Homo sapiens: one gene and its partners. The protein of the gene in region 1 purifies or fractionates together with the protein of each later gene. This does not show direct contact. Each region holds a gene or a part of one and is shown in the gene's direction. Other genes may lie near its edges. The genes, in order: SRXN1, TTC1, SULT1A1, TTLL12, TLE3 and USP34.

Region 1 (5,373 bases):
TTCATCAGCAGCCCTCTAGGATGTTTTATTCCCAGTTTACAGGTGAGGAATGGTGTTCAGAGGGCTGTGTGCCCCAGCTGCTGTGGAGAGGAGCTGAGATCCAAAGTCAGGTGTGCCAGGTTCCAGAGCTCAGGCTTGTGACTGCTGCACCTTACTGCTGAATAATCATTTGTGGAATCATGAGAGAGAACCCGTGGACCAGCAGCAGGAGGCCTTCCACGCCGCTCACACTTAATGGGGTCTCCCCAGAGTGCTCTACCCTGCACCCGTCCTGCCCCAGACTTTCCCTGTTTAGAGGATGACCTACTCTCCACCTGGCTGTGTGGGCCCCTAACAGGAAGTCAACTTAGATTCTCCCTTTTCTCTTGCCCTTGGATTCACCCCTTCTGCCAGACCCCTTGGGCCTGCCCCGTAAATGTGTCCCAAACCTGTCTACCTCTCCCTGTCCCCACCACACCATCATCCAGACCAGCATCTTCTGCTGAATACCTGCAGAGGCCTCCCCTCTGCCTTCCAGCCCTGTGCCCTGTCCACCCTGCCAAGTCTGTTCTCCTGTGACAACTTTCTAGAACATGCATCAGATCATGTCACCCTCCCCTGTTGCCAACACTCCAGGGCCCACCCACTGCTCTCAGAAGCAGACCTGCACCATCTGGCTCCTGCTGGCCTTTCTGACCATTCCTGGAGCCCTGGAGTCCACTCTAGTGAACTCCTTGCTGTGCCTCCTACACAGTGAACGTGCTCTGGTTTCAAGTCCTTTGCGTTTGCTGTTCCCTTTGCATGGAACGTTCTTCCCTCAGGTCATACACAGCATACATTACTGAGCACTTTCCGTGTGCCAAGCATGGTTTGAAGTGCTTTATATATATTAACCCATTTAACCCAAAAATTCTATGAGATGGATCTGTTATCTCCATCCAATTTGATAGATGGGGCAACTGAGGCACAAAAAGATGAATTGCCCAAGATCACATAGCTGTTAAGCAGCAGAGCTAGATTTGAACCCAGGCAGTTGAGCTCTTAATCGAAACTATTCCACTTCTCTCTTTTTTTTTTTTTTTTGAGATGGATTCTCGTTCCATCGCCGAGGCTGGAGTGCAATGGTGCGATCTCAGCTCACTGCAACCTCCGCCTCCTGGGTTCAAGTGATTCTCCTGCCTCAGCCTCCTGAGTAACTGTGATTACAGGCATACACCACCATGCCCAGCTAATTTTTGTATTTTTAGTAGAGACAGGGTTGTGCCATTTTGGCCAGGCTGGTCTCAAACTCCTGACCTCAGGTGATCCACCCGCCTCGGCCTCCCAAAGTTCTGGGATTACAGGCATGAGCCACCGTGCCCGGCCCCACTTCTCTATCTTTCCAAGTACTCTGCTTCATTCTTACCTCAGAGAGGCCTCGTGGACCCCATCTCTGTCCTGTCACCTGTGTTATTGTCATTATAGCATTTGTCACTCTAATATTTACTTCTTGTTCCATCTGCCCCACTAGACTGGAGCCCCTTGAAGCCAGGGCCTGATTCAGTCACATTCCAGCTGTACCGTATTCCCAGGGTCTACAACAGGGCCAGCTGGATAGTGTGCATGTGGTGTGCTGATACATGTGTGGGAGAAATCCCTGATTTGTAGCATCTGTCCATTTCTCTGGTGTAAATACTCTCCCATGGCTGATTTTCAAGCTACAAGGTGATGTCGAACAGCTCACAAAATTCCTGATAATTAACAGTTGTCTCTCACAGTAGTCCAGTGTGATCACCTTATAAGGAGCTCAGCACAAGTGGACAAAGTCTGCTTTACAAACTCTCAAGCCTTGTACCATGTCCATTGACTCTGTGCCTCTTCTCCCCAGGAGGACCCAGACAGCGTGCCCCCCATCGATGTCCTCTGGATCAAAGGGGCCCAGGGAGGTGACTACTTCTACTCCTTTGGGGGCTGCCACCGCTACGCGGCCTACCAGCAACTGCAGCGAGAGACCATCCCCGCCAAGCTTGTCCAGTCCACTCTCTCAGACCTAAGGGTGTACCTGGGAGCATCCACACCAGACTTGCAGTAGCAGCCTCCTTGGCACCTGCTGCCACCTTCAAGAGCCCAGAAGACACACCTGGCCTCCAGCAGGCTGGGCCATGCAGAAGGGATAGCAGGGGTGCATTCTCTTTGCACCTGGCGAGAGGGTCTGACTCTGGGCACCCCTCTCACCAGCTACAAGGCCTTGGACTCACTGTACAGTGTGGGAGCCCCAGTTCCCACCTCTGTGACAATAGGATCATGGCCTTACCCTTGAAGCATTACCGAGAAGGAGAACAGAGATGGGCTTGAAGAGCCACGTGCTGCCGGCTCCAAATTCCCAAGGACAAGGATCCCTCTGCATTTTTGTCTATGTAACCTCTTATATGGACTACATTCAGCTGCAAGGAAAGGAAAACCTTGATTGCAGTGGTTTAAACAAACAGAAGATTGTTTTTCCACATAGCATGGATTCTGGAGATGGGTGGCTAATGGTATTGGTTCAACAACTCCACGAAGGTAGGGGTCACGTCTTGGATCCTTTTGCCTTAATCTCAGTGCTCGTTACTTCATGGTCCCAAGATGGCTGCTGTATCCCCAAGAATCATGTCTGCGTTCAAGGAAGGAGGGGTGGAGGAAGAGGAAGGGCCAAACTAGCTGGACCCGTCACCTTCTATCAGAAAGTAAAACCTCGTCAGAAGTCTGTTTCCTGCTCTCTCCCTCTGCATATCTTCACTTAGATGCCCTTGGCCCGAGCCAGCTACCATTGCACCTCTAGCTGCAAACAAAGCTAAGACAGCAGGGAACAGAATTGTCATGGCTGAATAGACCAATCGTGTTCCATCTACTGAGACTGGCACACTGCCTCCTGCAATAAAACTGGGATCCCATTACCAAGAGAGAAATGCAGAATTGTGTACCAGTTAGCTTTTGCTGTGTAACAAACCATCCCCAAACTTGGCAGCTAGAAACAAACCCTGTATTTTCCCACAATCCTATGGGTTGGCAATTTGGGCTGGGCTCAACAGGGCAGTTCTGCTGCTCACACCTGGGATCCCTCATGGAGCTAAGGTCAGCTGTTACCTCAGCTGGGCCTGGATGGTCTAGGATAGCCTTACTCACTTGCCTGGCAGGTGACAGGCTGTTGGCTGGAATTGCTTGGTTCTCCTCCATGTGGCCTCTCCAGCAGGCTAGCTCAGGCTTATTCACATGATGGCTTCAGGATTCCAAAGAGAGTGAGAGTAGAAGCTGAAAGACTTCTTGAGTTCTTGGCCTGGAACTGGGACTAGGACAGTGTCACTTCTGCTAAGTTCTTTTGGTCAGAGCAAATCACAAGGCTTTACCCAGATTCAAGGGATGAGAAACAGACTACATGTCTTGATGAGGGGAACCACAAAGAGCTTGTGGCCATTTTTCACCTATCACAAATAATTTTGGATGGGTATTTATTTGGATAAAGGTATTTCCCTCTTCCCCCTTTCTCTCTGTCTCATGGGGCCTCACTCTGCCAAGTTGGAAGGCACTAAGACATTGTCCTGGCCCTCAGGGTCTAGGGGAAGAGGTGTTGGGGCAGGAAGTGAGTCTCTCCATGGGCTGGACCCACTGTAGTAGGAGTGCCTCCTTGTCTGCACTGCTGGTATGGGGTTAGGCCAGGTAGGACATTCCAGAGGGGCTTCTGAAAACCAAGAGTCCCTGGGGAAAGGGAACAGAGTAAGGCAGGCCTTGTTCTCACTGCCCTCTAAGGGAACTTGGTCACTCGGCACTTTTAAGCCTCAGTTTCTCCAGTTCAATAATAAGGACAAGAGCTTTTCCCATGCATTCTCTTTCCCCGGGAAAGTTGACTGAGGTGACCAGTAATAGAATTGAAAAGGGAGAGTGTCTTCAGTGCAATGTGGCATCCTGGATTGGGTCTTGGAACAAAAACAGGACATTAGTGGGAAAATTGGAAATCTGAAAAAAGTCTGAATTTTAGTTAATATACCAATTTCAGTCTCTTGGTTTTGACAGATGTACCATGGTGATGTAAGATGTTGACCTTGGGGTAGGCTGGGTGAAGGGTATACAGGAACTCTTTGTACTATCTCTGCAACTTCTCTGTAAATCTAGTATCATTCCAAAATAAAAGTTTATTTAATTTAAAAAAAAAAAGGGGGGGTGTGCAATTCCTTTAGACCAATGGTTCAGGGTCTCAAGCTTGTTTGCTAAATACCAGATTGCTGGGCCCCACCCCCACTTTCTTTTTTTTTTGAGACAGGGTCATGCCCTGTCACCCAGGCTGGAGTGCAGTGGCACGATCATGACTCACTGCAGCCTTGACCTCCCGGGGCTTAAGTGATCCTCCCACGTCAACCTCCTGAGTAGCTGGGACTACAGGTGCGCCCTTCTCATTTTTTTGTAGAGACAGGGTTTTGCTGTGTTCTCTGGGCTGGTCCTAAACTCCTGGGCACAAGCGATTCTCCCGCCTCAGCTTCCCAAAGTGCTGGGATTACAGACATGGCCACTGCCCCCGGCCCCCCAGAGTTTCTGATTGAGGCGAGTTGGGGCAGGGCCTGATAATTTGCTTTTCTAACAAGTTCCCAGATGTTGCTGATGCTGCTGTTCAGGGACCACATGCTAAGAGCTGCTAATAACTGCGTCAGTTATTTTCAAATACGGTGACTTCCCCACTTCCATCCCCAGTGGAATGAGTCTACTCATTCCCCCCAGCTTGTCTACTCATTAACTGTGTGACCTTGGGCGGTTCTGTCCCTTCCCTGGGGACTTCTTCCAGGCTGTCAAATGGATTGTGTACCCCTAAGGTTTGTAGCGAAGGTGAGGTGCCCCTGTCTTCTGTGAGTAAACTCCTCCTGTGCCCGCTGGGCTGGAATGAGAGTGAAGATGGTCGCCCCCTCCTGAAACAACTTTTCCTTCTTGCAGAGAAGACCCAACCAGACAGCGCTAAGGGCCCTGCCAGGCACTGCGAAGGAGGTGCAGAACAGATTCGGAGTAGAGGGGTACTGCTTGATCATTTAAGGAAGAGGAGCTGGGTTTTAAAGGGTGTAACCTGCTGGTAGCCGGAAGTTGCGTTTCCCTCTTACAGCAGCAGGTGGCGCTGCTCTCCGGCCCCCGCGGCAGGGCCGTCCCTCTGGCCTGCAAGAGCTACAGCTGTGGGAAGGGGCTGGATGCACGCGCAGGGCTGAAAGAGGCGGGATAGTTAACCCGGGTTCAGCCGGGATGAGTCTGGAGTTCAGGTTCTATTTATCAGCTCTTGTTCTGTAACCTTGCGCACATGTCTACCCATTCCTGTCTATACTGGGGGTGCTGGGCCAGAGAATCTCAGGCTCAGCAAAGGTGGTACCTCCTCCAAGAAGCTTCTGGGCTCCTACTGGCTGG
Region 2 (4,787 bases), on another chromosome or scaffold:
GTTTATGCTACATTTATGTTTATGAACATTTCCTGTTTATGCTAATCCCTTGTTAGCAAAATATGACTGCCTGAATATCTTGGTGGGGTTTTGGTTGCAGAGGTCTTGAGAAACAGAATTGTGTATGATTATAGCTAGCTATCCTTTGTTGAATGCCTACAATGTGCCATCCACTGACTTAAAATGTTACTTGTGTTTTCATTAATCATCACAACATGCCTATGAGATACATACTGTTATTTCCCATAAGGAAACAGCTTAGAGGGATGAAGTAACTAGCCCAAGATCAAACACCTAATGAATTGCAAAACTAATTCTCAAATCAAATCTGTTGGATTCCAAAGCTAGAGTATAATGTATAATGTAATAACAAAAACATCTGTCTTCCTACAAAGCAGATAGACTAATAAAATGTACACTCTCCTGTTTCTTTGCCCTGGGGCCACACCCTTAACTGGGCAAGCCTTCACTTTTGGAGACTGAAGTCCTGCTGTCCTACTTCCTTCTGATTGCACAAGCAAGGTAGTCTCTGAAGAGTTACTGTAATGTCTTGAGTTTGTCTACAAAGAACTTGAACTAGATTGTAGTTTATGCCACTAAGGAGCTCACTCACTGAACAGGTTGTGATACATTGGTATTGAGATGAGATAATAAATGTTCAGCCTAAGCCTAACAGTGGGGGTGGGAAGGTAGCCTGGGGTGGGTAGGAGCATCTTCTCTTTCTCTCTCCTTAGACGCTTTTCATTATCAAATCAGTTAGCTTTAATGTGAACGTGTTCGTTTTTGTGCTAGTGTGCACCACCAGAACAGGAGGAAAAAGGGCAAAAGTGAGCCAAGTTCATAAACTACCACAGCAAATACAGCTCAAAAAAATTAACTACTGTTCCATAACATTATAACAGGTTTCAGGCTTTTTAGAAACACTGATTATGCATCTATGTTAAAAAGTTAGTAGTGCTTTTCTGATACCTTAATATATTTTGCCCTGAAATTATATTAATTTTCTAGTGCCCTCTGGATTTGACAGTTGAATGGTTTGGCTCAAGGTGTCACAAAGTCTGATCCCTACCTCTAATTTAGTAAAACTTTTTTTGTGTCTCCTAGGCCAGAAAATCATACTTTAAGTTCTATAAATACTTTTATGATTTTTTTTTTTTTTAAGACAGGATCTCACTGTGTCATCCAGGCTGGAGTGCAGTGATGTGATCACGGCTCACTGCAGTTTCAACCTCCTGGGCTCAAGTGGATCCTCCCACCTCAGCCTCCTGAGCACCTGGGACAACAGGCTTGCACCACCCTGCCTGGCTAATTTTTGTGGGTTTTTTGGTAGAGACAGTGTCTCACCATGTTGCCAAGGCTGGTCTCCAACTCCTGGGCTCAAGCAGTCCTCCCACTTTGGCCTCCCAAAGTGCTGGGATTACAGGCGTGAACCACCACACCCAGTGAGGATAATTATTTTTATTGCCTGTAAGTTTAATATTCTAAGTAGAACAATACTTTTTTTCACTTTTTTCCTCCTTTTAAAAATTGAGATATAATTTAGTGAAACTGTATATCAGTTCTCATGTGTAGAATGCAGTGAGTTTGACAATTGTATACACCTGCATAGTTCACGTTTCTATCAAGATAGAGAACATTTCCATCATGTCAGAAACTCCATTTGTGTGCTTTATCAGTCATTCCTTTCCCAACCCTGCCAGTCTCTGGTTAACCACTCTTCTGATTCCTGTCCCATAGGTGGTTTTTTCCTGTTCCAGACATTCATATAAACATAATCATACAGTAGTATTCATGTTTAAAACATAAATATTTTCTATTCATTTATATATCAGTCTAAGTGTTTTCATAGCTAATTTGAAAATTTGTAAGAATATCTCATAACAGTAACATACTGCAGTGCTAGTCTTATTATTTAGAGAAATGTAAGCCACTGACTCTACTTTAAGGAAACAACCTATAAGAGTGCAGATTGCCTTCAGCTAACTGTGGTACTACTCTTATTAGGTGTTTGTATGCTATTTTGATAAATATCTTTCCAAAATTTTCAAGAAGCCAGCGAAACAGATTGAAGAAATGTCTTCTACATATATGGTTTGGCTTTAATAGCTCATCAGAAACAGGATAGTGTTATATTTGAATCTTTTAAAATAAAGTTCAGATAGTTCAACAATGACTAAAAAAAAAAAATGGCCAAAAAATGTGAAAAGACTCAGCCTCATTAATAATGATGAAAAGTACAGGCTGGGCGTGGTGGCTCATGCCTGTAATCCTAGCACTTTGGGAGGCTGAGGCGGGCGGATCATGAGGTCAGGAATTCGAGACCAGCCTGACCAACATGATGGAACCCCATCTCTACTAAAAATACAAAAATTAACTGGACGTGGTGGTGTGCGCCTGTAATCCCAGCTACTTGGGAGGCTGCGGCAGGAGAATCGCTTGAACCTGGGAGATGGAGGTTATAGTGAGCTGAGATCAGGCCTCTGCACTCCAGCCTGGGTGACAGAGCAAGACTCTGTCTCAAAAAAAAAAAAAAAAATACTAACTAAAACATTATGTCTCATCTATCAGATCAGAATATTGATCTGATGTTGACAAGGAGAGGATGTTGGAACTCATATACTAATATTGAGAATTTAAATTGTTATGTCACTTCATGGGATGCAGATACCAAATTTTTATGTGACCATTTCTTTAGATAGGGCTATCAATAGACTCTTCTACAAGGATAGGAATGTTCTACATCCTGCACCATGCAGTATGGTAGCTGCTGACTACATCAGGCTATTGAGCACTTGAAATGTGGCTATTACGGCTGAGGAACTGAATTTTATTGTAATTAATTTAAATAGTCATACGGGATGGCTCACACCTATAATCCCAGCACTCTGGGAGGCTGAGGCAGGCAGATCACCTAAGGTCAGGAGTTCGACCCGAGACCAGCCTGGCCAACATAGTGAAACCCCATCTCTACCAAAAATTAAAAAATTAGCCAGGCCTGGTGGCGGGCTCCTGTAATCGCAACTACTCAGGAGGATGAGGCAGGAGAATTGCTTGAACCCAGGAGGTCGAGGTTGCAGTGAGCCGAGATTGGGCCATTGCACTCCAGCCTGGGAGACAAGAGCAAAACTCCGTCTCAGAAAATAAATAAATAGTCACATGGGCCAGGCATAGTGGCTCATTCCTATAATCCCAGCACTTGGGAGGCTGAGGCTGGAGGATCACTTGAGCCCAGGAGTTTGAGACCAGCCTGGGCAACATAGTGAGACCCTGTCTTTCCAAAAAAAAAAAAATTTTTTTTTAATTAAAATTTTTTAAAAAGCCTTTAAAAATAAAAATAATCACGTGTGGCACAAGCCTGTAGCCCCACCACTCAGGAGGCTGAGGTGGGAGGATCCCTGGAGCCTGGGAAGTCAAGGCTGCAGTGAGCCATGATCACGCCACTGCACCCCAGCCTGTGCAACAGAGTGAGACCTTGTCTCAAAATGAATAAATAAATAATTTTAAAATCGTCACATGTGGCTAGTAAGTACCATATTGGACATGACAGCATTAACGCTGATTCTCTTGTAGCCATTTATTTCAAGGAAATTATTAGAAATATACACAAATGTATATACATAGATGTGTTGCAGCATCATTCATAATTTTGGAAAGCTAGACAATGTTAAACAGGGTATTTGTAGTATAGTAAATTTATTTGGTCTTTGTCCCTGGTTCCTGTTACAGAGCCACTAGAACCCTTGGAATTTTCTGATAGTGTAGTGTATTTTTTTGTTATTCTTAATGTACCCCTTTTGATAACACCTGAGTTCATCCTAATGAGATAACTTTTAGGATCTGGCCTATCTATAGCCTAAGGAAGGATGGGGCCAGTCACCAAAAAGACTAAGTGATTAGAGTTTTAGAGGGTTGGAACTTTTGGCACCACCTACCAAAATCCAGGAAAGGAGGAGGGCAAGTGCTGGAGATTAAGCTCCATTAAAGCTTTTTTCTTCTTGTGTTTTGAGCCAAGTCTCGCTCTGTTGCCCAGGCTGGAGTGCAGAGGTGCGATCATAGTTCACTGGAGGCTTCAACCTCCTGGGCTCAAGCAATCCTCCTACATCAATGTCCCAAGTGGCTGGGACCACAGGCGCCTTCCACCACACCTTGCTAAATTTTTTTGTGTTTGAAATGAAGTCTTACTATGTTGCCCAGGCTGGTCTCGAACTCCTGGACTCAAGCAATATTCCCATCTCAGCTTCCCACAGTGCTAGGATTACAGGTGTGAGCTGCTGCGCCTGGCCTATAAAAACTCTTGAACTAGAAATCTGATGAGCTTCCAGGTTGATGAGCACATGGAAGTGTTAAGAGGGTAGCACCCAGAGAGGGCGTGGCAGCTCTGCACCCCTTCTCCCTCTACCTTTCCCTGTGTGTCTCTTCACCTGGCTGTTCTATATCATTCATAATGTCCTTTGTAATAAACTACTAAGTGTAAGTAAAGTGTTTCCCAGAGTTCTGTGAGCCATTCTAGCAAATTATTGAACCCACAGAGAGGGTGGTAAGAACCCTGTGCTAACCATTCAGTCGGAATCATAGGTCACAACCTGGGACTTGTGATTAGTGTCTGAAGTGGGGCCAGGCTTATGAGACTAAACTCTTAACCTGTGGGATCAGACACTGTCTACCTGGAGATAGTGACAGAACTGAATTGAATTATAGGACACTCCGTTGGTGTCCATTGGAGAATTGTTTAGTGTGGAAAACACTCTCATCTGGTGTCAGACCTATTGGGAGGGTATAGTAGGAGA
Region 3 (5,587 bases), on another chromosome or scaffold:
GGGTGACCTGATCTGGCTGTGATGGATGAGCACGGGGGAAATAGTGGAAGACTCGGAATTAGAAGACGTGAGTGGGCTTTGGCCCCAGCCTCCCTACCCCACTCCCTGTCCTGGGCTGCCTGTGACCAACCTTGTTTCTGCAGGCACACTGGATAGCCCTGCTGGAGCTCAGTGTCCCTAATCCCCTCCAGATACTGGTGGCCTAGGGGAGGTCATCAAAGACCGGTGGGACATCGACCTCAGCCCGTTTCCACGCTTTTTTTTGTTTTGTTTTGTTTTTTTGAGACCGAGTTTCACTCTTGTTGCCCAGGCTGGAGTGCAATGGCGTGATCTTGGCTCACCGCAACCTCCGCCTCCCGGGTTCAAGCGATTCTCCTGCCTCAGCCTCCCAAGTAGCTGGGATTACAGGCGTGTGCCACCAGGCTTGACTAATTTTCTATTTTTAGTAGAGACAAGGTTTCTCCATGTTGGTCAGGCTGGTCTCAAACTCCCGACTTCAGGTGGTCTGCCTGCCTCGGCCTCCCAAAGTGCTGGGATTACAGGAGTGAGCCACCGTGCCAGGCCTTCTCCAGGCTCTTGGCACCTTAGCCAGAAACAATTTAAGGACAAGTGCAAAAGTCATGAATGTAGGCAGATTTCCTGCAGAGTAAAGGGACTCACTGAAGAAGAGGAACGTGGGGGTCCTCAAGAGAGTGTCTCATGCCCTACAAGGTGTGGGGCTGACCTTTATGGGCTTCTTCAACTAAAGAGGGGTATATTCATGAAGAGTCCAGGAAAAGGTAAAGATTTCTCAAGACCGTGGTGCCACAATTTACACCCAAATACAGGTGTTCCTGGAGCCGTCTTGGCACTGGTGGGTGTACGGTTTCATATGTTACTGATCATACAATGAGATCCTAGGTGAAACCTACATCAAATACAGCGCCATGTTGTGTCTGGTTGGTCGTAGCCAGCTTGGTCCTCATCCTATTTTTCAGGGACTTATTGGCCCTTAGCGCATGCAGCTATTTCAAGTTTCCTTCTTCTCCTCATGTGAAACTGCTGCCTGGGATTTTGTATTCACTTGCTACCACTCTATTAATCTCACATTCTCGCCTCTTTTCTGTGTCACCCCGTGTGGGTCCGACAGGTTGTTACTAGAGTGCAATACAAAGTCTTAGTCAAGGGAACCTCCTGAGGGTTGCTGAGGGCAGGGGTGGAGCTAGTAGCCTGAGGACCTGCCAGTCACGGGGATTCCTCATGGGCACAGAGGAGGGAGGAGGGGTCCATGGCCCTAGCATATGAGAAGCCTCTCCTCTGCCTGGAATTCCCATGCCTCAGCTTCCCCCACACTCCCACCTGTCCGCTTGCCTCTGAACTCACGCATTTCTTGGAAGTCTTGGGAGATTCACCTTTACTCAGATGGTTGTTTACCTGTCTCGTGCACAGCTTGACCTTGGACTTTAAAGTGAGGATAAAGAACGAGGAGGATGGGGGGATGCCCCCCTTCCACGGGGCCCTGTGGCTTCCAAACCTCGGCCTCCTCTGGTCTCTTGTCTGTGGAGCCTCCTTCAAACCCAGGGAAATAAAACCACCTGCCACGGGTTGTGGTTCTTCTAGGATCTTCTATCAATGTTCTCTGAGGTCCCCAGGAGCCATGAAGCTGGGGCTGACTCCCAGGGCAATGGGACTGCAGTGTCCTTGTTCTTTCTTGTTCTATGCATCCATGCTCTGCTCCACCCCTGCCCCTTCACTCTGCCCACACACATCCCTCTAGACTGGCCTTGTGGTCAGAGCCTGGAGTGCATGGGCTGCTGGGGGCCTGTGGGCTGCACTGGGCCAGAACCCCTGGCACCTTCAAGACTGGCCTGGAGCCAGCAGGTAGGTGACCTTTCCAGGGCCTGCCTATCCCAGCTTTCTCCTCCAATCCCTCCCCTCTCTTGCCTGGGTCAATTAGAGAGAGCTTGTCTGTTGGCTGCCTGGCAGGGTGGAGTTCAGGGGCAGGTCAGGAGCCCAGTGACAGCTCGGAAAAAAAAAAAAAAAAAAAAAAAAAACAGAAAAAAAAAACCTACAAAAACAAACCCACCATTGGGCCTTTCCCCTTTCATTCTTCTGTTTTCTACACAGCAAACTCAGTCGTGGCTTTGGAGATCACTTTAAGCTTGTCTCCAGCTGGCACACTAAGGAGGGTAATGGAGAAGCTCCCCCACCCCCAACCCCACCCCTTCCTTCCGGAAGCAAATCTAAGTCCAGCCCCGGCTCCAGATCCCTCCCACAGTGGACCTAGGAAACCCTCAGCTCAGAGAACAACCCTGCATTCCCCACACAACACCCACAATCAGCCACTGCGGGCGAGGAGGGCACGAGGCCAGGTTCCCAAGAGCTCAGGTGAGTGACACAGTGGAACGGCCCAGGGCGCCCTCACCCTGCTCAGCTTGTGGCTCTAACATTCCAGAAGCTGAGGCCTCTGGCATCCCTGCCCTTTCCCCATGGATATCCCATTTCAGACAACCCTGGCCTGCGTGAATCCCCCTCCCTTCCCTTGTTTGTTTGTTTTTTTCCCCGGGGAGGCCAGGTCTTGCTGTCACCCAGGCTGGAGTGCTGTGGGATCCTGGCCACTGCAGCCTTGAATTCCTGGGCTCAAGTGATTCTCTTGCCTCAGCCTCTGGAGTAGCTAGGACTACAGGCCCTCATCATCCTGCCTGGTTAATGTTTAAGAATTTTTTTAAAGATTTTTAGAGATGGGGTCTTGCAATGCTGCACCAGGTTGGTCTCCAACTCCTGGCCTCAGCCTCCCTAGGGTCTGGGATTATAGGTGGGAGCCACCCTGCCTAGGCCTGTGCTTTTGCTGAGTCATCAGAGTTTTGTTCATTCCCACAGCAGCTCTGGCCCCTAGTAGCAGCTCAGTTCCTCAATGGGCCGTGTTTGTCCTGGAGCCCAGATGGACTGTGGCCAGGCAAGTGGATCACAGGCCTGGCTGGCCTGGGCGGTTTCCACATGTGAGGGGCTGAGGGGCTCAAGGAGGGGAGCATCTCCACTGGGTGGAGGCTGGGGGTCCCAGCAGGAAGTGGTGAGACAAAGGGCGCTGGCTGGCAGGGAGACAGCACAGGAAGGTCCTAGAGCTTCCTCAGTGCAGCTGGACTCTCCTGGAGACCTTCACACACCCTGACATCTGGGCCTTGCCCGACGAGGGTGCTTTCACTGGTCTGCACCATGGCCCAGGCCCTGGGATTTTGAACAGCTCCGCAGGTGAATGAAAGGTGAGGCCAGGCTGGGGAACCACCGCATTAGAGCCCGACCTGGTTTTCAGCCCCAGCCCCGCCACTGAGTGGCTTTGTGAGTGCGGGCAAGTCACTCAGCCTCCCTAGGCCTCAGTGACTTCCCTGAAAGCAAGAATTCCACTTTCTTGCTGTTGTGATGGTGGTAAGGGAACGGGCCTGGCTCTGGCCCCTGACGCAGGAACATGGAGCTGATCCAGGACACCTCCCGCCCGCCACTGGAGTACGTGAAGGGGGTCCCGCTCATCAAGTACTTTGCAGAGGCACTGGGGCCCCTGCAGAGCTTCCAGGCCCGGCCTGATGACCTGCTCATCAGCACCTACCCCAAGTCCGGTAAGTGAGGAGGGCCACCCACCCTCTCCCAGGTGGCAGTCCCCACCTTGGCCAGCGAGGTCGTGCCCTCAGCCTGCTCACCTCCCATCTCCCTCCCTCTCCAGGCACTACCTGGGTAAGCCAGATTCTGGACATGATCTACCAGGGTGGTGACCTGGAGAAGTGTCACCGAGCTCCCATCTTCATGCGGGTGCCCTTCCTTGAGTTCAAAGCCCCAGGGATTCCCTCAGGTGTGTGAGTGTGTCCTGGGTGCAAGGGGAGTGGAGGAAGACAGGGCTGGGGCTTCAGCTCACCAGACCTTCCCTGACCCACTGCTCAGGGATGGAGACTCTGAAAGACACACCGGCCCCACGACTCCTGAAGACACACCTGCCCCTGGCTCTGCTCCCCCAGACTCTGTTGGATCAGAAGGTCAAGGTGAGGCAGGGCACAGTGTTTCACATCCATAATCCCAGCACTTTGGGAGGCTGAGGCAGGCAGATCACCTGAGGTTGGGAGTTTGAGAGCACCCTGAGCAACATAGAAGAACCTTGTCTCTACTAAAAATACAAAATTAGCCGGGTGTGGTGGCGGGTGCCTGTAATCCCAGCTACTCCGAAGCCTGAGACAGGAGAATCACTTGAACCCGGGAGAAGGAGGTTGTGGTGAGCCAGAGATCCCACCATTGCATTCCAGCCTGAGCAACAAGAGCAAAACTCACAAAAATAAATAAATAAATAAATATATAAATAAAAATAAAACTGTGGCACCTGTGGTGGCTCACTGCTGTAATGCCAGCACTTTGGGAGGCCAAATTGGGTGGATCACTTGAGCTCAGGAGTTACAGACCAGCCCGGGAAACATGGGGAGTCTCCATCTCTATAAAAATGCAAAATATCAGCAGGGCATGGTGGCATAGCGCTGTAGTTCCAGCTACTGGAAAGTCTGAGGTTGGAGGATTGCTTGAGCCTGGAAGGTCAAGGTTGCAGTGAGTTATTATCACTCCAGTGCACTCCAACTTGGGCGACAGAAAAAAAGAAAGACCACGGTCCTTTTTTTTTTTTTTTTTTTTTTGAGACTCTCTGTCTCAAAAATAAATAAATAAAATAAAATAAAATAAAATAAATCCCACAATAAAAAGAAAAAGCAAAGGTCCAGGTGTGGGGCATGTGAATCCAGGGAAGGAGGCCCTGGCTCAGCCCAGCTTTGGTCCTGTTCTTCTGGGAAAGTCGCCTCACTTCCTCCAGCCTTGTCTCATCTTCTGCGGCGGGGACTGTCTGCCTCTTGCTCTGATGACCAAGAACGTAAGACTCTTCAGTGTAGACCTAAGAAAGCTAGAGGGTGGGTCCTCACAGGCCCACAAAATTTGGTGGCGGTGGGATCACGGCTGGTGGAGCATGCCTTGCTCCAGATTGGGGTGTGACGCATTGATGCAGATTATATTACTATAGAATATGATGGTCTCAGGGACCAGGCAGGACTTTGGCTTCTGAGCAGGGTTCAGCTCCTGACTTGGCCCTACCGGTGCCGTGAGATCTCAAACAAGTCAGCCTCTAAGCCTCAGGTTCCTCCTTTGCCAATCCAAGAGATGAGCTGGCCTGGGACAGGCTGTGTGGTGATGGTGCTGGGGTTGAGTCTTCTGCCCCTGCAGGTGGTCTATGTTGCCCGCAACGCAAAGGATGTGGCAGTTTCCTACTACCACTTCTACCACATGGCCAAGGTGCACCCTGAGCCTGGGACCTGGGACAGCTTCCTGGAGAAGTTCATGGTCGGAGAAGGTGGGTTTGATGGGAGGAAGGAAAGTGTGGAGCTAAGGGGTGGTGGCTACAACGCACAGCAACCCTGTGTTGGCACCCCTTGCCTGCTTCTCCAGTGTCCTACGGATCCTGGTACCAGCACGTGCAGGAGTGGTGGGAGCTGAGCCGCACCCACCCTGTTCTCTACCTCTTCTATGAAGACATGAAGGAGGTGAGACCACGTGCGATGCTTCCCTCCATGTGACTCCTGGGGGCAGGCAC
Region 4 (4,787 bases), on another chromosome or scaffold:
TATGTTGATTAGCTATGGCTGGGTAACAAGTAACTCCAAAACTTAGCACCTTAAAACAGTAAACATTTATTATCTCACACGATTTCTGTGGGACAGGAGTTCAGGAGTGGCTCAACGGGGTGCCTCTGGCCTCAAGTCTCCCTTGAGGTACACAGGCCGCCCGTCGGGCTGTGGACCCGCTTCTGCATGGCATATGTGCATGCCTGCTGTGTTGGTGCTGACTGTTGGCAGCAGGCCTGGGCTCCCTGCCTTGTGGGCCTCTCCATAAGAGTGCTCAGGTGTCCTCAGGATGTGGCACCTGATTTCTCCCAGAGCAAGTGATCCGAGGGAGAGAGCAGAGAGGAAGCCTCAGGCTTCATGGCCTTGTTGCAGAAGCAACCCTGTCCCTTCCACCTTTTTCCTGCTCATTAGAAGCAACTCATTAGGCCCATCCCACCCTCAGAGATGGATGCGGCTCTGCCTTTGGAAGATAGTGTCAAAGAGTTTGTAGGCATGTTTTAATCTTTTTTTTTTTTTAATTTTTTAAAAAAGATAGGGTCTTGCTTTTGTCCAGGCTAGAGTACAGTGGCATGATCCTAGCTAACTGCCATTTCCAATTCCTGGGCTCAGGCAATCCTCCTGCCTCAGCCTCCCGAGTAGCTGGGATTCCAGGCAACTGCTACCAAGCCCCGCTAATTATTCAACTTTTCTGTAGAGACGGGGTCTCACTATGTTGCCCAGGCTGGTCCTACACACCTGGGCTCAGGTACTCCTCCACCTCAGCTTCCCAAAGTGCAGGGATTACTGGCTTGAGCCACCATGTGCAGCCACGTGGGCATGTTTTAAATCATCACACTGCAGAAGCTCCCGACAGCCCTCGTGGCTCCTAGGACAAAGCGGCTCCTCTCAGGAGGGGTTTGGCACCTTCTCGCCCCCTGCGATTTTGAGGTAGCACCGAGAAGATGTGCAACAATGTTTACCTTGTTCTTTTGACACCAAACTAGGACTGTTCGGCATCCGAGGGGCCTGGAGCCCCAGAATCCTGGGGTGAGGGGGGTGGTTAGAGGCTTTGGGGTGTTGGGAGGGAGGAGCAGCCATGCGCCCCTTGAGGCCATAGAACCTGATGCCAGGTGGTGAGGCTTGTGTCCCCTCCTTCTTTTCCTTTTTTTTTTTTTTTTTTTTTTTTGAGATGTAGTCTCACACTCTCTCCCAGGCTGGAGTGCAGTGGCGCAATCTCGGCTCACTACAACCTCCGCCTCCCGGGTTCAAGCGATTCTCCTGCCTCAGCCTCCCGAGTAGCTGGAATTACAGGCACGCGCCACCATGCCTGGCTAATTTTTATATTCTTAGTAGAGTGGGGATTTTGCCATGTTGGCCAGGCTGGTCTCGAGCTCCTGACATCACGTGATCCACCTGCCTCACCCTCTCAAAGTGCTGGGATTATGGACATGAGCCACCACGGCCGGCCTTTCCCTCCCTTCCTTGACCTCATCTCTACTTCCGGTGTGTTTCCTTTTAGGCCATTCTGGAGGAAAACAAGGAGAAGCTGCCACTTGACATCAACCCCGTGGTGCACCCCCACGGCCACATCTTCAAGTGCGTAGCCCCCCCCCACTGCTTGGGCTGGGACTTGTCCGCAGTCCCCGCCTCCCATGCTTCGTGGTTCCCACAGCCCCAGAACAGTGCTTGGCACGTGGCACGCAGCAAGTCAGCCGCATCCTGTCTGGGCACAGCAGTGACACGTGCAGGGAGTGGAGTTCTTGGGACCCCAGAGAAAATGCCGCAGAAAGTGAGAGAGCGAGCAGGGCTTTCTGGAGATTTTTTTTTTTTTGAGACAGAGTCTGTCTCTGTCACCCAGGCTGGAGTGCAGTGGCACGATCTAAGCTCACTGCAACCTCCACCTCCCAGGTTTCACACCTCACCTATGAGGCCAGGCATAGTGGTTCATGCCTGTAATCCCAGCACTTTGGGAGGCCAAACCAGGCAGATCGCCTGAGATCGGGAGTTCAACACCAGCCTGGCCAGCATGGTGAAAGCCCGTCTCTACTAAAAATACAAAAAAAAAAAAAAAAAAAATTAGTAGGGCATGGTGGCTGGCGCCTGTAATCACAGCTACTCGGGAGGCCAAGGAGGAAGAAGAATCACTTGAAACCTGGGAGGCAGAGCCTGCAGTGAACTGAGATCGGGCCACTGCACTCCAGCCTGGGCTACAGAGCAAGACTCCTTAAAAAAAAATAAAATAAATTCATCTTTGAAAGTTAAAAATAGGAATAGGCCATGGAAATGCTGGCAGTGAGTGGGTAAAGGGCCCCCTGGGCAGAAGCGTTGGCCACCACTGGTCCCCATCCCACCCCTGTCCTCTGGGCACCAAGGGGTCCTGTTACCAACCTTGCATGTCATGGGGCTGCTCCGCTTACCTGGATACGATGCTCATCCAGTCCTGGAAACCGACACTAGCCAGGCCTGTGCATGCCAGCCCTCCCCACAGCAGGGAGCCTTTGCTGGCCAGGAACATGCTGGGCACCCACAACAGGCACCCGGGCTGCCAGTAGGGGCCCCTCCCAGGAGGCTGCAGGTGTGGCTGTTGAGTTAAGGAAAGCCAGGCCGGCAGGTCCAGGCGGGACACCTTGCAGAAGCAGGCACAGGTGAGGACCCAGAGATGCAGAGCAGATTCCACCTCAGCCTTCACAGGAGCCCCTCCCTGAGGCTCCCAGACACTCCCCTTGGCTGCCCAAACCTGGTCTAGCCAAGAACAGGCAGGCTGCTCCACTCTGCCCCCTCCACCGGGCCTGAGGGCTTTCCTCCCTGCTGGCCTCTGCCCCAGCTGGGCAGCCCAGGGGCTCTTGCTGAGACGTGAGTCTTGTGGTGACCTGGCCAGGGCCTAAGGTCCCTCCACCTCCTCTGGGGCAGAGGCCTCACGGAGGCCCTTGGTGTGCCTGTCTGAGATTGGTGGCCCCAGCCTCATCCTCTTGTTTTGCATGTGAGAGGAAAGAACTAGCACATAATAAACACCCAAATTATGCCATTTAATTTTAATGACAAATGTGAGGTGGACGGTGTGGTCCAGTCCTGCGGATGGGGAACCAGGGGTCACAAGGGTACAGGTTGCGCCCCTCCCTCAGCAGATTGGAGGGAGCGGGGTCTGAACCCGGGCTGTCCAGCATCATGACTCGAACCCAGGACTTGCCTCTGCCTCATTAGCTTCAAAACAGGGAAGGGAGTCCCTGAGCCAGGGCTAGTGCTGGAGTCCCGCTTGGACACTTGGGAGCCGGGATCACCCAGCTCGGGCTCTCCCCACAGGGTCTACACGGACGTGCAGCAGGTGGCCAGCAGCCTCACCCACCCGCGCTTCACCCTCACCCAGAGTGAGGCGGACGCCGACATCCTCTTCAACTTCTCACACTTCAAGGACTACAGGTGAGGGCACCTCTGGCCGCAGGGGCCCTCCCAGTCAGGGCTTCTAGGCACTGCCGGCCTCCCCTTGAGCTGGCGCACCTGCCTCCGCCCTGCAGGAAACTCAGCCAGGAGAGGCCAGGCGTGCTGCTGAACCAGTTCCCCTGCGAGAACCTGCTGACTGTCAAGGACTGCCTGGCCTCCATCGCGCGCCGGGCAGGTGGCCCCGAGGGCCCACCCTGGCTGCCCCGAACCTTCAACCTGCGCACTGAGCTGCCCCAGTTTGTCAGCTACTTCCAGCAGCGGGAAAGGTGGTAAGTCCCAGACACGGCATCGGTGTGCTCCATGGCCCTTTTCCCCGGCCCAGCGTCTGTGTCCGCCTGCTCCTCCATGAGCACCCACTGTGGAAACCGTGGTGCAGGAGCCGAGCTGTGGGCCCCGAACGTCACGGCCGTCTTCACGGACCGCAGGACCTCTCCAGGTTTTTGCTGGGGCTGTCCTCTCCACCGCAGCGCAGCTGCCTGGCCTCTGGCAAACCCCTCCTTGTTTCCCATGCCCCTGCCTCTGACAGCTCTCTGGTGCCCCCTCAGCTCCCAAGGAGAAGTGGGCTGCCCTCTTCTGCCTCTGGGTCCTGGGGTGGCACCATCTGGGAACACAGGCCCCAGGCGCCCCCCAGACAGCCCTTCTGCTCCCCAGGGGCGAGGACAACCACTGGATCTGCAAGCCCTGGAACCTGGCGCGCAGCCTGGACACCCACGTCACCAAGAGCCTGCACAGCATCATCCGGCACCGAGAGAGCACCCCCAAGGTGGGCCCCGCAGACCAGGAGCCCCAGGGCTCAGGGCCCTGGCTGGACAGTGAGAGGTGGGGCTAAGGGGACCGAGCATCATGGTCCTTATGGACAGGTCCAGGCTGGGCAGGGTGGCTTACACCTGTAATCTCAGCACTCTGGGAAGTGGAGGAGGATCACTTGAGCCCAGAAGTTTGGAACCAACCTGAGCAACATAGGGAGACCTCGTTTCTACAAGGGAAAAAACTTTAAAAATTATCTGGGCATGTTGGCACACACCTGTAGTCCCAGCTTCTCAGGAGGCTAAGGCAGGAGGATCACTTGAGCCCGGGAGGTTGAGGCTGCAGTGAGCTGTGATCGCGTCACTGCACTCCGCCCTGGGCGACAGAGCAAGACCCAGTCTTTAAAAAAAGAACTGTCCTGGGTGCGTCTAATCGCAAAGTTCCTACCACATAGTGTGCCAGGTATGGCTGCCCAGCAGGGTGAGGTGGCTGAGCCTGGACAAGGAGCCTCTCAGAGCCGTGGTAAAGATTCATAGTGAGGGGACATCCAGAAGCAGTATTGGGATTGCAGGACACAGGATCTGCCTGGACTGTGTACATAGTCAGAGGCTGGCGGGAAATGC
Region 5 (4,787 bases), on another chromosome or scaffold:
CTCCTCCTGCCAGAGCCATGGGCCTTCACTGTGTTCTGTTATCTGTTCGCGGTTGCCAGAAAACCATCTCATATTGACAGGCGAGCTCCCTTAGTAAGGTGTGAGATCTGGAAGCTTCTCAGATCTATTCTCTATGGCACTTTCCACCAACCCCTCTTGCTTTGGGGATCTTCTTAGGAATGAGCATTCTTTGGATGAGGGGTGGTGGTTGACAGATTTACTAGTGGTGGGATTTGGCCAATTACTAGCTACCTACTCCAGCCCCCTAAGCATCTATTAAATGGCCACAACCCCTCCCTTGCCAGGTGGTTGGAAGGTGCCCAGGCATTCATTCAGGCATTCAGTAAATGTTAGTTTTCTTCTCTTGCACTAGTTGAGAAGAAAGATGTGTGCATAGGTGGATACCAGCATACCTAACTTCTCTTTCAGTAGTGGAGAAGAAGTTGGGTGGGGCGAAGGGAGAGGAAAGAGAAGCCCAAGCCCCTGAGGCTAGTGTTGAGTGGGGAAGTTGGGCCTCTGGAGCCAGGGCAGCGGAGTCCTTGACTGGGGAGGAGACAGGGAGAATTGCATTGTTGTTGATAATACTGACTTGCTGCATGGCAAGTTTTTAGAAGGGTTCAGCAATCCATTTTAAACTCTTTGTAAATGTTAGCTACTGCCATGAGGCTTAGTAGCTGTGCGCCATGAGCTGCTGCAAACATTATCTTACAATAATCCTCTGGGGTCTGCTGCTTTCCCCCTTTACAGATAAGGAAATTTGAGGCTCCAGGACTTGAAGTAACCTGCCCCAGGCCACACAGCTAGGAAGTGCCAGAGCTGGGATTTCAATCCTGTTCTGTCTAGTTCCAAAGCCTCCACTCTTCCAGTTACCCCGTTTTCCACCACTGATGTCCGGTGACGTTAGCTCTCATTCCACTGGCCCCCAGCTCATCTGGCTCTGGGGCCTTTGCTGTGATGACCTGCCCTGCCCCTGCTCTGTAAGGCAGGCTTGGAGTTCCTAAGAAATAAGGAGCCTTCCCCAGGGTCCAGCCTCAGGGTGGAAGATGCTGGCAGCTAATGCTGAAGGCATGTATGCATGAGCAAACACTGCCAGGGCTGTGAGCTTAAAAATGGATCCCTCTCTACTCAGAGGGAACCCCATGACTCTGCGGTTTTTTAAATGCATGCATTCTTTATCTCAGGCTTGGAAACAAACATTGAGAAATTATTTGTGAAACGGGGGTGCAGGGAGTTGGGGGGTGCTTGAAGACATAAATCTTTACATTACAGTCTATTAACAGACTTCCTTCAGCGAGACATTCATGTGAACTGAGCTGGGGGCAAAGGTTTTGGGGGTGCTTCCCCCTGCCACCCACCCAGTGAAGGAGCAAGAGGAATGGGAAGAGCCACTCCCTCCCTCCCTCCTGAGGTGGCCACGCCTCCCCTGCCCTCCCCAACTCAGCTGTACTCACCACCGACTTCATTGCAGCAGCAGCAGCTCCAGGCGCAGCACCTCTCCCATGCCACACACGGCCCCCCGGTCCAGTTGCCACCCCACCCGTCAGGTCTCCAGCCTCCAGGAATCCCCCCAGTGACAGGGAGCAGCTCCGGGCTGCTGGCACTGGGCGCCCTGGGCAGCCAGGCCCATCTGACGGTGAAGGATGAGAAGAACCACCATGAACTCGATCACAGAGGTGCGGCTGGGCTGGGGCAGAGGGTGGGGCGGGGCAGGGGTGGGCATGGGCGCTCATAGGCCTCACAGTGAGTGGACCCAGCAAGTGCTGTCGTCCTAAGACCAGGAGTTACCAAGGATTTGGAGTCATCTGTTGATACCTGGTGCAGGGAAGCCAATGCCATCCGCATCCCATGCACCTTTTCCTACTCCTTGGTGTGGACCTGGTATTCTCTGTCCTGAAGACCCTGTCTGTTCATCTGGAGCTCGCTCCCATCTTCCTACAACACCCTTGCCTGTCCTTCAGGGGCCAGCCCCAGTCCAACCCTTCAGGATGCCTTCCTGGTCAGACTAGGGGCTTTTTCAAGTTCCTGTAAGAGTTTAAGAGTTGGGATGCCAAAGTTGAGTCCTTGTTACTGTCGTCTTACATCCTACCCCTGGAAAATGTCTTGTGCTCACCACGATCATTAGTTCCCTAGGACAGGTGCCAAGTTCTTGGGTGTTTTCCTTACATCTATGTCTCACCAATGCAGAAACCTGGGAAAGGTGCACAGTCAGTGCTCAGGTAAAGGTTTGTTAGCTGACTGCCTGTAAGTGGGGGTAGTGCACACCCCAGCAAGAGATCACATAGACTTGGAGTCAGAACTTGTTCTCTGACCCTCTCTGCAGCCCCTACCATGAGGACCCATGAAGCTGCACCGAGCTTGGCCTCAGGAGTGGTTCATTGGATCAGAAAAGAGAAAAGCCTGGCTCCCTGGGAGGCCCTTTTCAAAAATTGGTGCCAAATGCACTCTGCCCTTAGATACGGTATTTACTGGGGCACGTAGCCAACACCTTCTGAGCACTAGGGACCTGGAATGTCACCATCCTGCCTTGGCCCAGGCCACAGGGTGGTAGCCGGTCCAGGGAACTGGAGGCTACATTTTTTTGTCTTACAGTAGGATGGTCCTTTTGGCAGAGGAAGAGGGGCCTCTCCATAGCAGACAGGAGAACTGGGGAGCTAGTGCTTAGCTGGGCACAGTTTCAGAGGCTTCAGCTTTTAGGGGCATCCTGACAAAGAATCACAGAATGGTGTTAATTTCAAAAACAAAATTAAACCACTGTTAAATTCCTTTTTTTTTTTTTTTTTTTAACAATAAAGTTCTTAACTCCCAGGTCCTACTGGTATTTTATATGGCATGATCCTTCTCAAGCTTGTGATCTTAAGACCCCTAGCCTGCTAAAGAGTAAACTTGGTGCCCTCTGGCATGACAGGGAGAACTGGGTCAAAGGCCTACCCTCCCCACCCTGGGGACTGGGCCTCCCTTGCCCACCCTGGGGACTAGAGGGGTGGGGGCAGCATTGGAATTTGGGTGGCAAATTTCCAAACCGAGAAACGCCACCTAATGGCCCTGCCTTGGCTGATCCACGGAGACAGCAATCCAGGCCTTCTGCTCATTTTAAAACCAGTGCACTAGCAAATCACAAAAGCCAGCTGGACTTAGACTGACCTTTTTCCTTTCTTTTTTGTCTTTTTGTTTTGGGGTGCCTGACCTTCCTCCTGTCCTGGCCTTCTTTCCCCAAAGAGAGAGAATCCAGTGCGGTAAGTGTTGGCACTCTGGAACCCGGAGGGGTGTTTGGGTGCTGGGAGGAGGTGGGACTCGGGGCTCCCAGAATCGCGGGCCTGAGACCAGTCAGTCGGTATCCAAAGCTGGCTTCTGGGTTCCCGCTTCTGCTCTGTGGGTTGTAACTAGGGATTTTGTTGTTTGTTTACTCTTGCTGAGCTGGGAGCTTCAGTGCTGATGTCTTAGTCCAGAGCCAGTGGCAGGGTGAGGGGTAGCTACTGTCATAAAATGGGAGCTGCTGTCGTCACCTGTTGAGAGTGACCTTCAGTTGTGGAAGCCCTTCCTCTCTCCAGGCTTTAGGTCTGCCATTTGTCAAATGAAGAGCTTGGGCTAAATGAGCTCTAACTCCGTTTCATATGAGAGGTGATACTCTGAGAGGTCAGCTGACCAGCCCTGGATCTTCCATTGCGAGGGGCTTTGTGGAGTCTCTGGGCTAAACCCAGGGCTAAGGACCCAGGTGTCCCATGTTCAGGGCCAAGGTTTTTACCACCCCCCTGCTAGGATGCCTCCTGTATGATCTTGCATCCTCCTCATTCCCTTCAAACGCCTGCAGTTTCTCCCTGCTCTGGGCTTTCACTCGATTTAAGAAAGTGCTAGCAGGCGAGCATTAAGGCCAGGCCGCCTGCGTGTCTGCCAGCTCTGAGATTTGTTGTAAATCTTTCTGATCACACTGAGGCTCCGAGGTTCTGTTTCAAGTGAATAAGCCTTCTGAATAAGCGCAGTGGAGTCTGGATAAAAAAAATCCTCCAGCGATTAGCAAAGCTATTTTATTCCTCATCGCTGTCCTTGTATCTGGGGCCATCTAATCTGTTAGGATGGCTTTGGTTATTACCTCGTGTTAAGTAGGACTTGGAAGGTCAGGCAGTTAACTAACCATCTAGACAGCAGCTTCCTTGCGCAGCTCTCTCCAATCCAGCCCTCCTTCCCTTCCTGGCCCTCCCCCTACCCAGGCTGACTTTTTAAACCTCCCATTAGCAGTGAGGCTGGCGTCCGTGGCCTCTTGACCCGCCTACATGCTCAGAAATCCAGGACCACATTTGGGCTGAGGAATGGCTAGGTACCTAAGAGAGGAGTCATTGAAGCTGAAAATCCATGTTCACTGCCTCGGTACTGATCCTCTAACAGTGGCATTTTTTCGGAGAGGCAGTTTGCCTAGATAGGCGGAGGCCTGGATTGGACATTTTAAGGCTGAGGTCTGGTCCCAGCTTTATGAGGCCCTGTGTAGTTCTCTTGGCCTCTCTGAGCCTCAGTTTCCTTATCCATACCATGGGAATAATTCCTGCTTGACCAACCTCTCAGCTTTGTTTCGGAAGACCCTTTATAACCTGACTGAGGATCCAGATTACCTGGCTAGCAGGGACCCACTTCAGTGGAATTGGAGGGGGAGTGGGAAGCCCAGCACTCTCTAAAGAGCATGAGTCTTTACCTCATCCTCATCCCTATTGGCTTCTGGCTTTGTGCCCCATCTGTGAAAGTTTTCTGCTAAAAGACCCCCCCTGGGAACCCCCAAGAGCTGGGCTGTTTACCATGCT
Region 6 (4,787 bases), on another chromosome or scaffold:
TCAGCAGTCTGTCCTTTAGCTTTTCATAATCTGTAGTTTTTCAGGGGTCTGATGCACTTGTTTTCTTACAGCGATCTCCTTGAAAACAGGAAAGATTACTGTTCCTACCTTAAGTGTCTAAGAGCCAACTCCTTAAAATTAAGTGGCTGCATAAATAATGCTTGTTAAGTTACAAAGGCAGAATTGGGAAGAGGAGGAGGTACTAATGTTTGGCTCATTCCTTGGATCAGGCATAAAGGATCCCCACTACCTTTCAGTCCCTGAAAAAACTGTTGATTGTACTGCCTGGTTGCATCTGCTCTACCCCATTGGAAGAGATGAATTTATTCACCTTCCTTAGGTGCAACCCTTGACCCACATCATGCTTTCCTGAAGTATTTTGAGTCTGGTTCAGCCTCCTACCAGGCTGTAGTGTGCTCTGGATTCTCCTAGATGTTTGCCATCCTGTACTCTACTGGTGGTTTCTCTACTTTTCCAAAACAGAACTCAAGTGTAGAGACCTTATCAGAGTCATCTCCATCCCCTGAAGAAATGCCACGTTGTTCTCTACAGTAGAAATCTTTCAGAGGCTAGTATACACTGATCTTAGCTCACTTGACTTAGCATACAGTAGGCATTCAGAAAATGACTTTTATCAGTTGATTTTTGAGCTGAGTGTTCTGTTCAGTCAATTGGAGATCTCGTTTTCCCTCTCCACTGCTACTGCTGTTCTTTTTCATTCTTCCTGATTTGGGTAGTTTCTTGGTTTCTGTACTCTCCCACTACCTATTGCTCCCTATTGCTTTCTCTACTTCTGCATCGCAGGACTCCCTTCGCTTGACTTCTTTCACAGACAGAACTCACTGTGCCCCCAAATTTCCCTTAAAACAAAGCCTAACCATATAAGGCCTCCAAAGCTTCCAGTGCTATAGAAGCAGCCATCCTGAGCAAGAAACAGAGGCAGAGGCACAGGCTGTGACTGGTAGACCAAGGCAGGTTTTTCCTAGTGTTAAGGATCTCAAGACCTGGGTCTTGGTCCTACTTGAATCCTAATTTCTTGACTGACCTTGAGTAATTTACTTATGACAGCTGCATACTTTAATAAGATATACACATATGCATATATATATATATATAATCTAAATTTTGTCCTATTTAAAAAATATATTGCTTTTTTCCATATAAATTATTAAAATGCACATTTAAATCTATGGAGTGTATCTGCTTAAAGACATACTACTTGTGTTTAAGAGCCATGACTATTTGAAAACAGGAAAACCAAATTTTAGTAAAATTTCCATATATTGAGACCACTGATTCTGTGTGAGATAATTAGGAAAGAAGATTTATTGTTTACCCTTGCAGTGTTTATGGGGGGAAAAGGTATTTACAGAATTACTGTTGCTAGCGAGAATATACAGTAAAGTTTAAAACATTTTGGAGAATTGATTTTGATTCTTAAAATGTGTCTTTTTGCAACATATGCTCTGGTTACCTATAAATACATTAATTTGGCCCTTGAAAACATTCACATCCTATTCTTTGTTAGCCTTATTTTTCCAGTCCTTGTTAACTCTCTCAGTGCTGGATAATAAACCTGCATTTCTTTTAAAACATTTGTTCAGTTTCGGCATCAGTGTCTTCCCCCAGCACTCCCTTAATCTAAATTAGTAACATTTTACTGTATGAAAAATAGTTGCTGTTAACTAAAAATTCAATAGGTGAGTTAGACATGGCTTTTCAAGTAGGATTTTCAGTGGCTTCAGATTCCATCATACACAAGTGTATGTTTTTTCTGTGTAAGTTTTTTCCGTGTAAGTTTTTTCCGTGCTCAACCGTAAGTGCTCAACCATCTTCTCCCCACTTTAGTCTGCTATGTCAAAAAACTGCATCAAGCTTTTGTGTGAAGATCCTGTTTTCGCAGAATATATTAAATGTATCCTAATGGATGAAAGAACTTTTTTAAACAACAACATTGTCTACACGTTCATGACACATTTCCTTCTAAAGGTACGTAGTACTTTGGAAACTCAGTGTGTCATTTCTAATTAGTTAATGCTTGTGGTTTCATTATGCTGGTCTTTTGGAGATTTTTTTAAATCTTCTTTTTCAGGTTCAAAGTCAAGTGTTTTCTGAAGCAAACTGTGCCAATTTGATCAGCACTCTTATTACAAACTTGATAAGCCAGTATCAGAACCTACAGTCTGATTTCTCCAACCGAGTTGAAATTTCCAAAGCAAGTGCTTCTTTAAATGGGGTAAGAACTATGCAGAGGCGGCGGCACACACTTTTAAACTGTCCTTCAGTTAACTGTGTGGCCTTCATATGATTTTACTCTCGTAACTTTAACTTACTGATTCAAACTCTTAAGCCATGTGCGACAAAAAAACAAGTTTTAAATACACGTTTACTATGCCTTGTATGTACACAGCACACTCTATCACCTTGGAAGCTACAAGCTGGTATCATTAAATGCTGAAAGGTAATAAAGGGAACATCTTAGTGGTCTTATCTCTAGTTGGGTATATTTTTGGAAACAATACTTGTGATGTTTCTATTACTGCCTATGGCTCCTATGTAACTGAAACAATTAATGATCTACTGATTTAAAAAAGGCAGTTAAATCTAGAGCATTAGTTGCCTTGTGCAGACTCCCATGACAGCCATGTCCTAGAATAATGGAACACTCTGGAAATGGGCTAGAATGTTGAGCAGCAGCCTCCCAAATCACAGTATGCATAAAAGCCAAAACAGATGACAGAGCTCAGTAAGGAAGACCTTACTATTTGTGACATCCATCAGAATTTTAACTTGAGAAACTGATTTCAAGGTTTGTTTTTAAAATTCTTATATTTCCTTTTCCATTTTTCAGAAAACACTATTTCAGGCTTTGGTCTGACTTACTGGTTCGTGGGCATAAAATAATGCTATTAGTGACTTTAAGAACTAATGAGGCTGGGCACGGTGGCTCATGCCTGCAATCCAAGCATTTTGGGAGGTCGAGGCCGGTGGATAACGAGGTCAGGAGATTGAGACCATCTCAATGGCCAACATGGTGAAACCCTGTCTCTACTAAAATAGAAAAAATTAAGCCAGGCGTGGTGGCGGGCGCCTGTAGTCCCAGCTACTTGGGAGGCTGAGGGAGGGGAATCGCTTGAACCCGGGTGGTGGAGGTTGCAGCGAGCCGAGATTACACCACTGCACTCCAGCCTTGCCAAAGAACAAGACTCCATCTCAAAAAAAACAAAAACAAAACAAAAAAAAAAAACAACTAATGAAATGCTGTAGTATCTTAACACTGGCTTTCTGGTTTTATCATTCTAAGAATCCCAGAGAAACCAGGGTATTCTTAGGAAAGAATGGATTCCTGGGAAAATAAACATCTGCAATTAACTGTAAACAACTGCATCAAAGTGTTGGCTTTAGAATTTGAAATGTTCCTATCTGGGTTTTTGTAGGACCTGAGGGCACTCGCTTTGCTCCTGTCAGTACACACTCCCAAACAGTTAAACCCAGCTCTAATTCCAACTCTGCAAGAGCTTTTAAGCAAATGCAGGACTTGTCTGCAACAGAGAAACTCACTCCAAGAGCAAGAAGCCAAAGAAAGAAAAACTAAAGGTTAGCTTTATGGACTACTATCATTACCTTTAGGGTGGGAGGAGGGAGTAATACACTTGGTGTAACTGGTTTAAGAGTTGTGTGTTCAGCTGAACCTCCTAAATATAAATGCTAGAAACAAAATTAACTTCCCACATCCCCCCCTAACGTGATCTTAATGACTTTCAGAGAAGTTTCCCTTTTGGCATGTGTTTTCACAGATGATGAAGGAGCAACTCCCATTAAAAGGCGGCGTGTTAGCAGTGATGAGGAGCACACTGTAGACAGCTGCATCAGTGACATGAAAACAGAAACCAGGGAGGTCCTGACCCCAACGAGCACTTCTGACAATGAGACCAGAGACTCCTCAATTATTGATCCAGGAACTGAGCAAGATCTTCCTTCCCCTGAAAATAGTTCTGTTAAAGAATACCGAATGGAAGTTCCATCTTCGTTTTCAGAAGACATGTCAAATATCAGGTCACAGCATGCAGAAGAACAGTCCAACAATGGTAGATATGACGATTGTAAAGAATTTAAAGACCTCCACTGTTCCAAGGATTCTACCCTAGCTGAGGAAGAATCTGAGTTCCCTTCTACTTCTATCTCTGCAGTTCTGTCTGACTTAGCTGACTTGAGAAGCTGTGATGGCCAAGCTTTGCCCTCCCAGGACCCTGAGGTTGCTTTATCTCTCAGTTGTGGCCATTCCAGAGGACTCTTTAGTCATATGCAGCAACATGACATTTTAGATACCCTGTGTAGGACCATTGAATCTACAATCCATGTCGTCACAAGGATATCTGGCAAAGGAAACCAAGCTGCTTCTTGACATTAGGTGTAGCATGTCTACTTTTAAGTCCCTCACCCCCAACCCCCATGCTGTTTGTATAAGTTTTGCTTATTTGTTTTTGTGCTTCAGTTTGTCCAGTGCTCTCTGCTTGAATGGCAAGATAGATTTATAGGCTTAATTCTTGGTCAGGCAGAACTCCAGATGAAAAAAACTTGCATCTTCAGTATACTTCCTAAAGGGCAATCAGATAATGGATATGTTTTATGTAATTAAGAGTTCACTTTAGTGGCTTTCATTTAATATGGCTGTCTGGGAAGAACAGGGTTGCCTAGCCCTGTACAATGTAATTTAAACTTACAGCATTTTTACTGTGTATGATATGGTGTCCTCTGTGCCAGTTTTGTACCTTATAGAGGCAGAT

The links.
Region 2: the proteins of SRXN1 (region 1) and TTC1 fractionate together in Homo sapiens (co-fractionation; one large-scale study listed by BioGRID). This does not show direct contact.
Region 3: the proteins of SRXN1 (region 1) and SULT1A1 fractionate together in Homo sapiens (co-fractionation; one large-scale study listed by BioGRID). This does not show direct contact.
Region 4: the proteins of SRXN1 (region 1) and TTLL12 fractionate together in Homo sapiens (co-fractionation; one large-scale study listed by BioGRID). This does not show direct contact.
Region 5: the proteins of SRXN1 (region 1) and TLE3 fractionate together in Homo sapiens (co-fractionation; one large-scale study listed by BioGRID). This does not show direct contact.
Region 6: the proteins of SRXN1 (region 1) and USP34 fractionate together in Homo sapiens (co-fractionation; one large-scale study listed by BioGRID). This does not show direct contact.

The regions. Positions count from the first base shown.
Region 1 is NC_000020.11:645,391-650,763, reverse strand, and holds the end of SRXN1 (sulfiredoxin-1), read left to right. Parts: intron 1-1,846; coding exon 1,847-2,050; 3' UTR 2,051-4,149; downstream 4,150-5,373. UniProt on the Homo sapiens protein: Contributes to oxidative stress resistance by reducing cysteine-sulfinic acid formed under exposure to oxidants in the peroxiredoxins PRDX1, PRDX2, PRDX3 and PRDX4. Does not act on PRDX5 or PRDX6.
Region 2 is NC_000005.10:160,011,224-160,016,010, forward strand, and holds part of TTC1 (tetratricopeptide repeat protein 1), read left to right. Parts: intron 1-3,435; exon of another isoform or gene 3,436-4,787.
Region 3 is NC_000016.10:28,606,711-28,612,297, reverse strand, and holds the start of SULT1A1 (sulfotransferase 1A1), read left to right. Parts: upstream 1-2,253; 5' UTR 2,254-2,367; exon of another isoform or gene 2,368-3,438; 5' UTR 3,439-3,442; coding exon 3,443-3,590; intron 3,591-3,694; coding exon 3,695-3,820; intron 3,821-3,909; coding exon 3,910-4,007; intron 4,008-5,220; coding exon 5,221-5,347; intron 5,348-5,442; coding exon 5,443-5,537; intron 5,538-5,587. UniProt on the Homo sapiens protein: Sulfotransferase that utilizes 3'-phospho-5'-adenylyl sulfate (PAPS) as sulfonate donor to catalyze the sulfate conjugation of a wide variety of acceptor molecules bearing a hydroxyl or an amine group.
Region 4 is NC_000022.11:43,173,108-43,177,894, reverse strand, and holds part of TTLL12 (tubulin--tyrosine ligase-like protein 12), read left to right. Parts: intron 1-1,498; coding exon 1,499-1,575; intron 1,576-3,279; coding exon 3,280-3,396; intron 3,397-3,491; coding exon 3,492-3,686; intron 3,687-4,068; coding exon 4,069-4,180; intron 4,181-4,787. UniProt on the Homo sapiens protein: Negatively regulates post-translational modifications of tubulin, including detyrosination of the C-terminus and polyglutamylation of glutamate residues. Also, indirectly promotes histone H4 trimethylation at 'Lys-20' (H4K20me3).
Region 5 is NC_000015.10:70,062,900-70,067,686, reverse strand, and holds part of TLE3 (transducin-like enhancer protein 3), read left to right. Parts: intron 1-1,468; coding exon 1,469-1,673; intron 1,674-3,216; coding exon 3,217-3,233; intron 3,234-4,787. UniProt on the Homo sapiens protein: Transcriptional corepressor that binds to a number of transcription factors. Inhibits the transcriptional activation mediated by CTNNB1 and TCF family members in Wnt signaling.
Region 6 is NC_000002.12:61,187,720-61,192,506, reverse strand, and holds part of USP34 (ubiquitin carboxyl-terminal hydrolase 34), read left to right. Parts: intron 1-1,848; coding exon 1,849-1,989; intron 1,990-2,092; coding exon 2,093-2,236; intron 2,237-3,437; coding exon 3,438-3,597; exon of another isoform or gene 3,598-3,797; coding exon 3,798-4,405; 3' UTR 4,406-4,787. UniProt on the Homo sapiens protein: Ubiquitin hydrolase that can remove conjugated ubiquitin from AXIN1 and AXIN2, thereby acting as a regulator of Wnt signaling pathway.